Homo sapiens: one gene and its partners. The protein of the gene in region 1 interacts with the protein of each later gene in a pairwise test. Each region holds a gene or a part of one and is shown in the gene's direction. Other genes may lie near its edges.

Region 1 (5,820 bases):
TAGGGGGCACAGCTTCAAGTACCATTTACTCACTCTGCAACCTCTATTCCTTCTTATTGGCTACTATGAACTAATGACACTATGAATGTGACCATAAGATAAATCTTCCCTCTGCATGTCTTGTTAGGGAGGTACATGTTTTCTTATTTAAGACTTTCATAGACATATATACAGAAAAGTGCACAAATGAGTATTTGGCTTAATGAGTTTTCAGTATTTCAGGTACACAGGAAACATGACCATGTAAACCTCTAGGCAGATTAAGAAACATTGCCACCATCTTAGTGTCTTTCATAATTAATATCGGAAGTGATAAACGGTCACTTCTGCCCTCTTCTGTAGGTAACACAGACCAACCGTGGTACAATATAGGAAGGCAGTGCATAAGGATGTGAATGCCAGGAGTGAATGCCATCTTGGAGGCTGGCTACCGCAGTCATGCATTGATCGTTTTCAAATACTACTGGTTCACTTATGCAGCCTGCACAAATATTGATGTATTTAAGCAAACAATGTAAATAAAAGTCACAACTGATAATCACTTATATCAGAAAATTCTGGAGATACTGGGAAGCTGCCAAGATCATTATGGTGAATACCATTTTTCCAAAATCATATTTTTTTTTTGCCTAAAATCTTGAATTTTATCATTGGCAACAAACTCAATTTTTTTTTCTTTCCTCCCTCCCTCCCTATTTCTCTTTTTTCCTTTCCTTTCCCCTTCCCCTTTCCCTTTCCTTGTTTTTCTTGAAGTTACAGATTCCCTTTGTTCATTTTCAAGAAAGGTTTGTCAAATACCCAAGTCCGAATAACCGGTTTGTCACTCATCTTAGTAAAATTTGTGTTCCAGGAAAAAAAAGTATTTACTTCAGTTTATAATGCCATCTCACAGTAGCTCTTCTTTGATACGTCATACTTCAATATGCAGCAGAAGTACTTTGTGAGGACTTCCAAGTTTTTACAAAGAATATTAAGTGTCGGAGTGGTTATAATAAAGTAACTTTTACAACTTCATCAGGGATATTCTCTGGTGACAGCGTTCATTTTTCCATTTTTTTTTTTTTTTTTGAGACCGTGCCTTGCTCTGTCATCCAGGCTGGAATGCAGTGGCATGACCTCGGCTCACTGCAGCCTCGACCTCCCAGGCTCAAGGGATCCTCCCACCCCAGCCTCCCGAGTAGTTGGGATTCAGGTGCGTGCCGCCAGGCCTGGCTAATTTTTGTATTTTTGGTAGAGATGGGGTTTCGCCATGTTGGCCAGGCTGGTCTCGAACTCCTGACCTCCCAAAGTGCTAAGATTACAGGCGTGAACCACCGCGCCCGGCCCATTTTTCTTACTGTGAGCGTGTGGTGGTGAAGAGCTCCAGTACGGTTTGGTGTCATTACTGTAATTCCTGTGGAGGGGCCAGCACCTTGACCTACCATTGCTTTTCCACCATCAGTGCAAATGTCAGCATTGTGCAAAGGGCAAATCACGTCTTCATATTAGTATGAAAATAATTTTGGCTTTGAAAGGGTGTCATTGACCCTCAGGACAATCGTTGGTCGACATCAGTGGTTCTCAACGGGGCAGGGTGGGAGGGATAGTTTTTCTTCCAGGGGAAATTTCACTGGGGAAACCATTGGCTGTCACAATCGACTGGTGGTGACATCCCGTGGACAGAGACCAGAGATGCTGCTAAGCACCCTACAATGCACAGAACACCCCGTCCCCCAACAAAGCATTATCCAGTTTGAAATGTTAATGGTGCTGAGGCTGAGAAAGTATGACTTCCAAAAATGAGTCTTTTGGGCAGGAGAGTTGGAGAAATTAACAATCTTGATTACCTTTATTACATGTGCTCGTTTATTTTCAAGACATGATGCACAGCTACGTTCTGGCTGTAATTCTGCCTTCTGGGTCCAACTCACTTGTAACTTTAACGTGAAGCCTGCAGTTCAGCCTCGAGCCTCCCTGACTAGCCTCCCCGCCCGGCCGCCTCGAGCCCTTTATAACCGAATTTTGCCTCTCTGTTCTCTGCGTCTGGCCGACCTCATCAGCTAGGCTATAAACCCCTTCGGGGAAGGAGCATATCCTAATCCTTTGAATCCCGTAAAATAAGTTTTCCCCTCACCTTGTTCCCCACTGACGGGACGCGAGGCTGCGCGGTACCGCGGGGGCGGCTCCTCTCGGTGCGCTCTTCAGCCCGCGCAGCCTCATTTTCCCGCGCTCGTGCGCTGCGGTCACTCAGGGCTGCTGCTAGAGGGCGCGCCCAGCCGCGTGGCCCTGACTACTACAAATCCCAGAAGGTCATGCAGTGGGGGCGGCCGCGGTGACTTCTGGGATTTGTGGTCCCGGAGAAGAGATTGGCGGAGGGGAAAGACTGAGTCGTCTTTCCTTTGCCCGCTTCTGTGGACTGTTCGAACGCCCAGGGGTGGGCCAAACCCGTTTCTTAGGAAACCAGGAATCCAGGGAAGGCAGGTAGGAATTTGGGCGTGATAATTTCTGCTTCCAGTGGGAAAGAATGTAAACACGGGGCCTTGGGAGCCGTTATCGGGTAACTGGGGCTGCCCGGTCGGCGGTGGAAGCTGAGGAAGAGGAGGAAAAAGAGGCGAGTGGGTGTTGTGATTAGGGGAGAAAGGACCTTCGGAATAGGAGTTGAAACCCGACGGGATCCGGCAGAGCCTGGTCGCTAGGGTTGGTCTCCAGGGACAAGCGAGTCTGAGGGTCGGGCCCGCCGTGGCACCTTCGCGGAGCTGCGCGGCCGCAACCTTCCCTGAGCGGTGGGACGGGCGGGACGAGCCGGCCGCTCCCCGCTGGAGAGGTGTCTGCGGCCCGGGGCGGTCCGTGAACGCGCAGGTGACGTCCGGGGCAGCCTTTCTGAGCGTTTTTATTATTGTTGACCGATGAAGGGAAAGTCACTAATACTGGTTTTTCTCTTGCGGTGGCGTTTTTGGGTAAATCGTTTCTTGGATTCCTCACCTCTGAATACCTCCTTTTACCCAGAAGGATGCTGTTGTGATTTCCTGATCTTGTTCATGTAGTGGTTTTTCCCTTTGGGTGCTGCATCCTCAGACACACTCAAGACAAGCCCTCTCTGGCGGCTGGGTAAATGTGAAGCCGTCGCCAGTTGTTGAGCGCCTACTATAGGGATCTTTGTAACAGTACAGGAATTTAGAATACAGCGTCGTTGTTTAGAATCGTTATGCCATTCCTGAAATATAATCCTATATAAAAGGTTGAATTTGTCTGGTTTCATGAGTTTAACATGAAACCGGTGTGGATTGTGGTTTACTCTCATGGTTTCTTACTCTGGTAAAAAAATGTTAAGTCTAGGATGTTGAAGCCTCGTGCTTCTAACTAGACTCAGGAAAGCCTCCTTCATAAGAAGTTTTAATTTCATGTTCAGATAGTCATAGAGGAACAATAAACTCGTTCGGCTTAAGATATCTGAAACAACTGGGAATGTTAAATTTTCTAATGCAGAAAGTGCTTTGCATGCTCTAGGATTCACATACCTTTTTAAGCCTGGCTAAGTTTTCTTCAAAGCTTAAGTCCTCCAGAAAGCCTCAAGTGTCTCTTCTCTGATGTCATGGCATCCTTTGTTTACTCTCTTGTAGCACATATCGTGTATGAAATTGACTGTACTCTGTGGTTTCCAGACACTTTTGAAGAAAATATAAAACTTTGCTAATGGCCTTGATAACAGATTCATGCTTTTACACAGTAGTGGGCCCTTGATACTACTGTTTGGTATCTCTATTTTTCCTTTGTTGCTTTTCCTTATCTCCACAGTGACTATTTTAGTCTTTTCCCTTTTTCTCAAGAACTCAGATCTGTTATTTTCCTTTTACTTTGAGCAGATGACTAGCCGCTGTTTGCTGGAGAAATGTGAAGCTTGGGGCATGAAATTCCTCATTTTCCTTTCCCTCCATCCCTGAACTTGCCTGTATGTTTCACTCAATATTAACTCCTTTTTTTGTCTGAGAGGACTGTATTTTTGTCTCCCTCTTTCAGGTTAAACTTGTCGATTGCTAGTGGCATCAGGCCTCCCACACCCTCATAACCTCAGTCTGTCCTGACCTCTGCAGCCCCTGATCTCTAGGTCTCAAGGGATCTGTGGAGGAGAATGGCTCAAACACCTGAGGCAATAGTGGCGTGGTTTTTTCACATATGGTTGAGAGCCACCACCTTGGGCCATAACTTATACTTGTCCCCAGCATTTATAACAGTGGTTTGGGTTGGAAGATGGGGAGGGTAATTGGAATCTGAATGACCTATTAATTTTAAAAGATGTGTGGGTCTGTTTCTCACTTTTTCCTTTCCTTCCCACCCTATCACAGCCCCTCATGTAATCTACAGATCTGATCAACGGTTTTTTTTTTTACTTTTTTTTCTTTTGATCAATGATTTTTATTGTAGTTTACCTCCAGTAAACACACTAGGTGTCCTTTAGTATGAGTAGGGTTCCCACAGTGCCTGGTGCCTCACCTTATGAATAAAGAAAGTTTCATTTGGAATCTTGAAACCGGAAAACGTGGTCATCATTCTTGTTACCATTAGGGATAATCATAAATACAAGACTTCTTTTTATCTTGTCTTACACTGATATCTTGTGAGTCTTTCCTAATGATCTGTATTTTCTCAGGTTGTCCTCACTGTGTGCCTTTTAACTTCTGTTCCATAGTATCCACACTTCTGTTTTCAGCCATCTTCCCCTACAATACTCATAGTCATCTTCAAACATGGGAAACTCATTCTCCTATAATATGATCGGCCTGGGGAGAGAGTTTGCATTGTCCTTATTCCCCAGCACAGTTTATAATCCATTAGTCCTCCAGGTTTTAAAAAAAATCTCAGTTCCTGTGGAAAGTTTGTGGTTCACTTATATTATCAGCCTGTATATTTCTTTCTTTCTTTCTTTCTTTCTTTTTTTTTTTGAGATGGAGTTTTGCTCGTGTCGCTCAGGCTGGAGTGCAATGGTGCAATCTCGGCTCACTGCAACTTCTACCTCCTAAGTTCAAGCGATTCTCCTGCCTTAGCCTCCCAAGTAGCTGGGATTACAGGCATGTGCCACCATGCCCAGGTACTTTTTGTATTTTTGTAGAGACGGGGTTTCACCATGTTGGCCAGGCTTGTCTTGAACTCCTGACCTCAGGTGATCCGCCTGCCTCTGCCTCCCAAAGTGCTGGGATTACAGGTGTGAGCCACCGCGCCCAGCCTGTATATTTCTTGATTGCTGTGATTTATTGGCACTCTCTCATATTCATTAAGAACTCAGACATACGACTCACAATTTTCTTACCCCTCCAAATTCTGCCATTACGGTAGGTCTTTCCATGTGAATGACCTCATAGCCACCCTCACTTTTTTTCTCACCTTCCTTCTAGTGATTACAGGGATCATTTTATTGTGCTTCACTTTATCACACTTCATAGATACTGCGTTTTTGCACATTGCAAGTGCTCAGTAACCCTGTGTCCAGCAAGTCTTTTCGTGCTATTTGTCCAATAGCATGTGTGCACTTAGTGTCTCTGTGCTACATTTTGGTAATTCTTGAAATATTTCAGATGTTTTAATTATTACTATATCTGTTATGGTGATCTGTAATCGATGATCTTTGGTGTTAACAATTGTAATCATTTTGGGTTGCCATGAACCATGCCCATATGAGATGGTGAACTTAATCAATAAATGTGTGTTTTGAATGCTGTACCACCAACTGGCTATTCCCATCTCTCTTCTTCTCCTTGGGTCTCCCTATTTCCTGAGACACAGCAATATTGAAATTAGGCCAGTTAATCCTACAATGCCCTCTAAGTGTCCAAGTGAAAGGAAGAG
Region 2 (3,500 bases), on another chromosome or scaffold:
GCTGCCTGAATGAGTTGCTTGAATGTATGTACTATTTGAATAATTACCTGTTTGCCATTGCTTGCTGTTTATATTACCTGGAATGCCATCCTTTTCTTCTTGAGAGCTTTAGCACAAATCCCTCCTCAGTAAAAATAGTGGCTTAAGTTTCCTGAGTGCTTACGTCTGTGAGGCACCATGCCTTTAATTTCCACTATTGCATTGAAGCAGTGGTTATAGTTATCAGTCAAGCCTTGTACATTAAAATATACACACCCAAATATATATACACACCTTGTGACACAGGTACTGTTATCATCAACTTGCATTTGGAGGATTTGTCCAAGATCACATACCTAGTAAGTAGCAAGAGTGGGTCTCTGTCTCATGTAATTCCAGAGCCCAGGTGCTTAGTCATACTCCAGTGCCATAGCACTTATAGCTAACACTTACTAGAGGACCAGTTACATGTCAGGGACTGCTATAAGGGCTTACATATTTGATCCTTTGAACACCCTAATGAGGTAGCAACTGCAGTGATCTCTGTTGTATATATGATGAAATTGACGCTTTGAGAAGTAACTTACCCACAGTCTCATATCTGCGAAACGGGAAAGCCAGAATTAGAACCCAGGCGGTCTGCTTTTGGAATTCTACTGTAAGTCTCTTTGATAAGCTGTCAAATTGTACAGCCACAGAGGGAAAAATTTACTGTTTGTCCATCTATTTGTCATTATATAAGGGATTGGGTATAAAGAAATAAGCATTATATAGGCGTTATATAAGGACTTGGATATAAAGAAATGAAGCAAGAAAAAAAAATCTCATCTTCTCTAAACTCATAGAGCTTGCGTTGTAGTACCACTGTCTATACCTGATCCTCAAGGGCACAGATGTGGTATTTAGTTGTTCTGTATTAGTAGTACCTTGCGCGAGTAAGTATTTAATGTGTTGGTGATGATAATTCATTGGCTTTTCTGTTAACTCCTGCCAAGGAGACTTTGCCCTGATTTAGGCTTATTAATAATTTTTTTTTCCCAGACAACTCGTAGCCAGGCGTTCATTCTCTTCCCGCTCATCTTTCCTCTTCCCATTTGAATCATGTTTTTGTTGACATCTAGAGTATTTTATCCCATTATGTACTATGGAGCATTCTTCTATTTGTAGGGATAGGATTACCACCCTGGAGAATTAATTTTTTTCTTTTTTCCTCAGTACTATACTGGCAATTGCTGGAGAAGATTTTGCAATTGTTGCTTCTGATACTCGATTGAGTGAAGGGTTTTCAATTCATACGCGGGATAGCCCCAAATGTTACAAATTGTAAGTAAATATTTCTAAAGACATTTCACAATGCCTTTGTAATGATTTGATGTTGTGAGAGTTTCTACTTCTAAATGATTTGTTTCATGAGTTTTTAAGTTGCTGTTGGGAGCATTTTTATTAGAAAACCATTTTCTAAGTTAATGTTTCCTAATAATTTAATGTGCAGTCTTAATAATATTTGCTGTATTCAGGGTACCAAAAGTGCTTTCGGTAACCTAAATGTGTTCACCCCAGCATTTTACCATGAAAAATTTCCTGCTGTGTCTTAACATGGTGGAAGGCCAGAGAAAGAAAGAAGAGCAAGCGAACCCACTGCTGTGATAATGTCCATTCATGAAAGCTGAGCCCTAGGACCTAAACACCTGGTCCCAACTCCCAGTACCATCACAATGGCAATTAAATTTCAACATGAGTTTTGAAGGGAATATTCAAACCACAGCACCATTAATCCATTAAATGATATTTTTTTTAAATCTGCCTCCCCACACTTTTTTTTTTTACCTGAAACATTCGTTTTAGAAATATCCTAAGCAATTATGTCCACAGCTCAGTTTTAATAGGCTAGCTATGTTTTTCCTAAAACATGAAAATAAAGCCAAAACTTAAAAAAACAAAAAGCCTGCATAAATACTGAATACATACTGCAGATTGGCAGTGGTCTGTATTTACCAGTTTTGGAAATGCTTATAAATGGTCATGAATTCCTGGGTTAATTAAACTTGAATTGTAATAGGAATGGGACTTACGAGGTTTAGGTCCTTTGGATGGACCCTCCTTGTATTGTAGGAAGTAGGTACAGAAGAAAAGATACGTTGTCTTTCCTGCTCCTAGGGATGGCCCACATCTTAAAAAGCAATGAAGTTTGTTTTCGTCTTCCCAGTTCTGTTTCTCTCCACTTGCATCTTTTGATACCCCCTTTCTGCTTTCTGTTTATGGTGCTCTTGTGTTACCTTTTTTTCTCCTCAAGGACGACACTTGTACAACTTGAAAGTAGTAAATATTAGAAATAAGATTTTAAAACAACTTTATGGATACCATCCTTGTACTAGCTTTTACTCATCTTTTAAATATTGCTTTAGTTACGTTTGCTGGTGAAGTGAGCACTTTTTTTTTTTTTTTTTGTGAAACACGTCAGATATAGAGATAGAGAATAAGAACAATGCAGCATTAACGAATGCCTGTATATATCCCTCATCCCACGTCCTGTGGGTCTGACCTAGAACTAAGCTTGCCTCTTCCAAACCTGTTTCAGACTGTATTCTTTGCATGAAAACTCCCATTCCTTTGATGCACCTGGATATTTGGGAAAAGCATCTTGAAGTTCTAAGATTTCTGTCTTTCCCTGTTGGTATTGTCAACCAATCTTGTCAGTAAAGGCAGTAAAGCCTTATAGGGGATTGGACGTCTTCACCTTAGTGCAGTGAGGTTGATGGTAGGCATAGATCAGGTGATGTTAGTGATGACCCTAGAGGTGTCAGCTGCTCTCCTAGTAGGACAGGTATGGTTTGTGCGAGTCATTCGTAAGTTTCCAAGAGGAATTGTGTGGCCTCTGCAAAATATTGTTTAGGTTTCTTTATAGATTCATATCAAGATCTAGGAATTAATTTTTGAAATACACGGTTGAATTTGTATGTCTATACCAAATTTTAATCCTCTCCATACAGATGGACATTTAGGTTTTGTTTTGTTTTGGGGTGCTATTTAAATGAGTACTCACTGGTGAGTCTAGAGCATCCCTTTGCATACTTGGATAAGTATATTAACAAGATGGATTTCTAGCAATAGAATTGGTGAGAGTGGTGTGTATTTAAATTTTTAATAAATACCACCAAATTGCCCATCTAACAGGTTAATCAGTTTATACTGTTTCCACAACCTCACCAGCATTTAGTTAGTTAGGCATTTTTAGCCAGTATAATTGGTTGAAATAGTCTCTTTTTGAGATTTGGATTTCTGAGTAACATAGAGGCTCTTATGTTTATGGTGACTTAATGTCTCTTTTTTCTGTGACTTGTCTGTTCATAGAAGTTACCCATCTTTCCTTTATGTTATTGCTTTCCTTATTTGTAAGAATTTTTATAGAATTAAAATTAGACTTTGGGGGTAGATGCTACTAATATATTTTCTTAGGGTTTTAAAAAGCTATTCTTAAATTTCCCTGTAGAATTTTATGTAGTCAAATTTATGAAATTTTT
Region 3 (3,500 bases), on another chromosome or scaffold:
CAGGCCTCCAAATGACCCAACTAATAAAATCCGGAGATTCTAGAGTATGATTCCTTATCAAGGAGGGGCCATGGTGACAGCTGGGATCGTCCAACTAAGAAGTTTCCAGAAACTGTCAGGCCAGAGTTGGGAGGGGAGGCCAAGAGGACTGAAGGAGGACAGGAGTTTGAAGTGAAGACCCCTCATCCTGGACTCTGTCTTCTGGCCTTGTTTACTGTGAGGCCATTCCTGCTGTATCTGAATTGGCATCCCACATACAAATTTTACTTATTTATCCATCTCTGGATGGTAGATTTGGATGGTAATTTATCCTCTTACTTATCTGCACTTTTTACATTTTTTTCCTCTCCACGTTGAAAATAAAGACCCCCAATCACTATCCCTTCCTGCCCACCAGTCACTTTGGAAACCTTTTTCCAGGTCTGCCAGGCAGGATTGATGTGAAGCCTGGAGCAGTGGGGGATGTGAGCCAGAGAGAGGGGAGTCAGGGTTTTGGGGTGGGAGCAACCAAGCCAGACGAGGCCATAAGAGTCCGGGAAGTGGGGGCGAGAACCCGGTGGATGAGGAGGCTCAGGTCCTGGCTGTGGGGATGGATGTGTTCCATCTGGTAGGCCAGGACCTTTATGTGGTGAAGGTGAGCAGGCTGAGGACGGAGGAGGACAAACATCACACTGACATCTCTCCAGTCTTCACCATATTGGGGGGCAAAGGGAGAGAGATTGATTGAGTCTAAGGATTTGGCTCACGCAATGGTGGAGGCTTGGTAAGTCCAAAATCTGCAAGGTAGGCCATCAGGCTGGAGATCAGGGAAGTGTTGCAGTTCAAGTCCGGAGGCATTCTGCTGGCAGAACTCCTTGCTCAGGGGAGATCAGTCTTTATTCTATTCAGGTCTTCAACTGATTAAATGAGGCCCACCCACATTCTAGCAGGCACTCTGCTTTACTCAAACTCCACCAATTTAAATGTGAATCTCATCCAAAAACACCTTCACAGAAGCATACATTATAGTATTTGACCAAATATCTGGGCACCATTGACCAGCCATGTGGGCACACAAAATTAACCACCACAGCTTCCCATGTATTATTTTACACAATCTTTACAACACAAGGTAAGGTCCATGCTTTCAGTATTTCTATTTTATAGAACAGAAAACCTAGGCCCAGAGGGGTTACATGACCTCCAAAAGCCACATGGTCAGCTTGTGCCCAGGGAAAGTCTAGAAGCAGTCTGTATTTTCAGGAGCCAGAGCTTCTACCTGTTTTTTTTTTTTTTTTTTTTTTTTGAGATGAGGGTCTTACTCTGTCACTCAGGCTGGAGTGCAGTGGTGCAATCATGGTTCATTGCAAACTCCATCTTCCAGGCTCAAGTGATCCTCCCGCCTCCCAAGTAGCTGGGACCACAGATGCATACCACTATGCCTGGTTAATTTTTGCTTTTTTTTTTTTATAGAAGCAGGGTTTCACCATATTGCCCAGGCTGATCTCAAACTCCTGAGCTCAAGTGATCTGCCCATCTCTGCCTTCCAAAGTGCTGGGATTACAGGCGTAAGCCACCACGCCTGGCCTAAGCTTTTACTTTTACCTGTTATGTTCTATAGCCTTGGGGTGAATTGGTGTGTTGAGTAATCTTCGGCATCCCTGATAGGTCTGGGGACTAGGGCTAGAGGTCATATAATTACCAAAGGTTAGAGCTGAAAAGATCCTTGGAGCTTATCTAGTCCAATTTATTCAACCTATAGATGGGAAAACCAGGGCTCAGAGAAGAAAGAAGTTTGCTCCAAGTAGTACAGCTTGTTAGTGGTACTCAGAGGCTTAACATCATGAACTTACTAAATGTCTGATGAGAATAAATGGAGAAAGTGACACTCCTCCATATCTATGACAAATATCCATGTGAGGGCATAAATGTCTACTGAGTTTCTGTTATGTACAGCATGTATTCATAGATGTATTTATAGATGAAGTGGAAATCTGCATGCAGTTACTAATGTATTCTACGTTATATTTATTCTTATGTATTTTTCCTACTGTGAGAGCAGATATTTGGTGTCTGTTTCTGTAAAGAAAAATTTATTTTTAAGGAAAAGAAAATCACTTGGATGCCACATCAGTAGTAACCAACTTGATTTGCCTTGAATCTCAGAGATAAGTGTTAAATATGGCACTCATCAGATTTAACAACTGTGAGCAGGGAATATAAAACTATGCACCAGATACAAAATAATCAAAAGAGATGTCAATTTTTTTTTATGAACAGCTACAGGAGTTTAAACTGAGTAGGCAGAGGAAACAGGGGAAGGAAAAGCTCACACACACACACACGCCCACGCGCACACAAAGCAGGGTACAGAGAGAAAAACCAAGACAGAGACTGAGGAATACTCATGTAAGACCCAGATACAGAAAAAGGAAAATATTTCCACCTTTGACTCTTTTAGAATAGAGCCACAAAAAACTTTCAAGGTAGGGCTGCATTTTTGCAGGTATGGGACTGTTCCATGGCCCTAATCTTGTGTGTCATCTGGAGTCACGCAGAGAACAGGAGACTAATTGTTCTGTGTCCAGACTCCCTAAGCATCTCCAGGGTGAGACTGGGTCTTCTGTTTTTTAAAACTCCTTTCAACAGCTAGGATGTTGTTCTGTCCATGTCTGTCGACTGACTCTTTCATCTTTTCCCCTGGGTAGATTAACTGCAACGGTTTTACTCTCAGTGATCAGAGAGGCCTGCAGGCCGTGGGCGTAGGCATCTTCCCCAACCTGGGCCTGGTGAACCATGACTGTTGGCCCAACTGTACTGTCATATTTAACAATGGCAAGTGAGTATGTCTTTATGTGGGGGTGTGTGTGAAGGGGATGGGGAGACCTATGGTGTTTTCTCCACTTGACTTAAGCCAAAGTCAACCTGCTAAACCTGAACTAGCATAAATTTTAAATGTATAGCACATAGAAATCTCATTCCAGAATAATTGTGAATGAGAGAAAGGCATCATGGAGGATATCAAAGAATTCAACCTGGGTCATTTCTGAATGTGTATGTTTCTTGGGGCTGCCTGGACAGGTTAGATAAACCTTTAACTACTATTTTAAAACTTGAAGCCTAGGATTATCTGTCTAGAGGTCATTTAGTCAAGGTCTCAGCAGGAATCAGGAGGCACACTCAAAAGGTTTTACCCAAATAGAATTGAATGAAGGGACAATTTACAGAAGTGTGGACAGGGTTTAAGATACTAACAAGGGGCAGGGACTGGTGGCTCATGCCTGTAATCCCAGCTCTTTGGGAGCCCGAGGAGGGGGCGGATCACTTGAGGTCAGGAGTTTGAGATCAGCGTGGACAACACAGTGATACCCCCGTATCTATAAAAAATAAATAAATACATAAATAAATACATTAGCCGGGCATGGTGGTGTGTGCCTGCAGTCCCAGCTACTCATGAGGATGAGGCAGGAGGATCACTTGACCTCAGGAGGTTGAGGCTGCAGTGAACTATAATCATGCCA

The links.
Region 2: the proteins of TTC33 (region 1) and PSMB1 interact in binary tests that used the Homo sapiens proteins (3 or more experiments, as listed by UniProt).
Region 3: the proteins of TTC33 (region 1) and SMYD1 interact in a two-hybrid assay, tested with the Homo sapiens proteins (one large-scale study listed by BioGRID and IntAct).

The regions. Positions count from the first base shown.
Region 1 is NC_000005.10:40,752,464-40,758,283, reverse strand, and holds the start of TTC33 (tetratricopeptide repeat protein 33), read left to right. Parts: upstream 1-2,322; 5' UTR 2,323-2,460; exon of another isoform or gene 2,461-2,590; intron 2,591-5,820.
Region 2 is NC_000006.12:170,546,808-170,550,307, reverse strand, and holds part of PSMB1 (proteasome subunit beta type-1), read left to right. Parts: intron 1-1,194; coding exon 1,195-1,302; intron 1,303-3,500. UniProt on the Homo sapiens protein: Non-catalytic component of the 20S core proteasome complex involved in the proteolytic degradation of most intracellular proteins. This complex plays numerous essential roles within the cell by associating with different regulatory particles.
Region 3 is NC_000002.12:88,088,325-88,091,824, forward strand, and holds part of SMYD1 (histone-lysine N-methyltransferase SMYD1), read left to right. Parts: intron 1-2,687; coding exon 2,688-2,818; intron 2,819-3,500. UniProt on the Homo sapiens protein: Methylates histone H3 at 'Lys-4' (H3K4me), seems able to perform both mono-, di-, and trimethylation. Acts as a transcriptional repressor. Essential for cardiomyocyte differentiation and cardiac morphogenesis.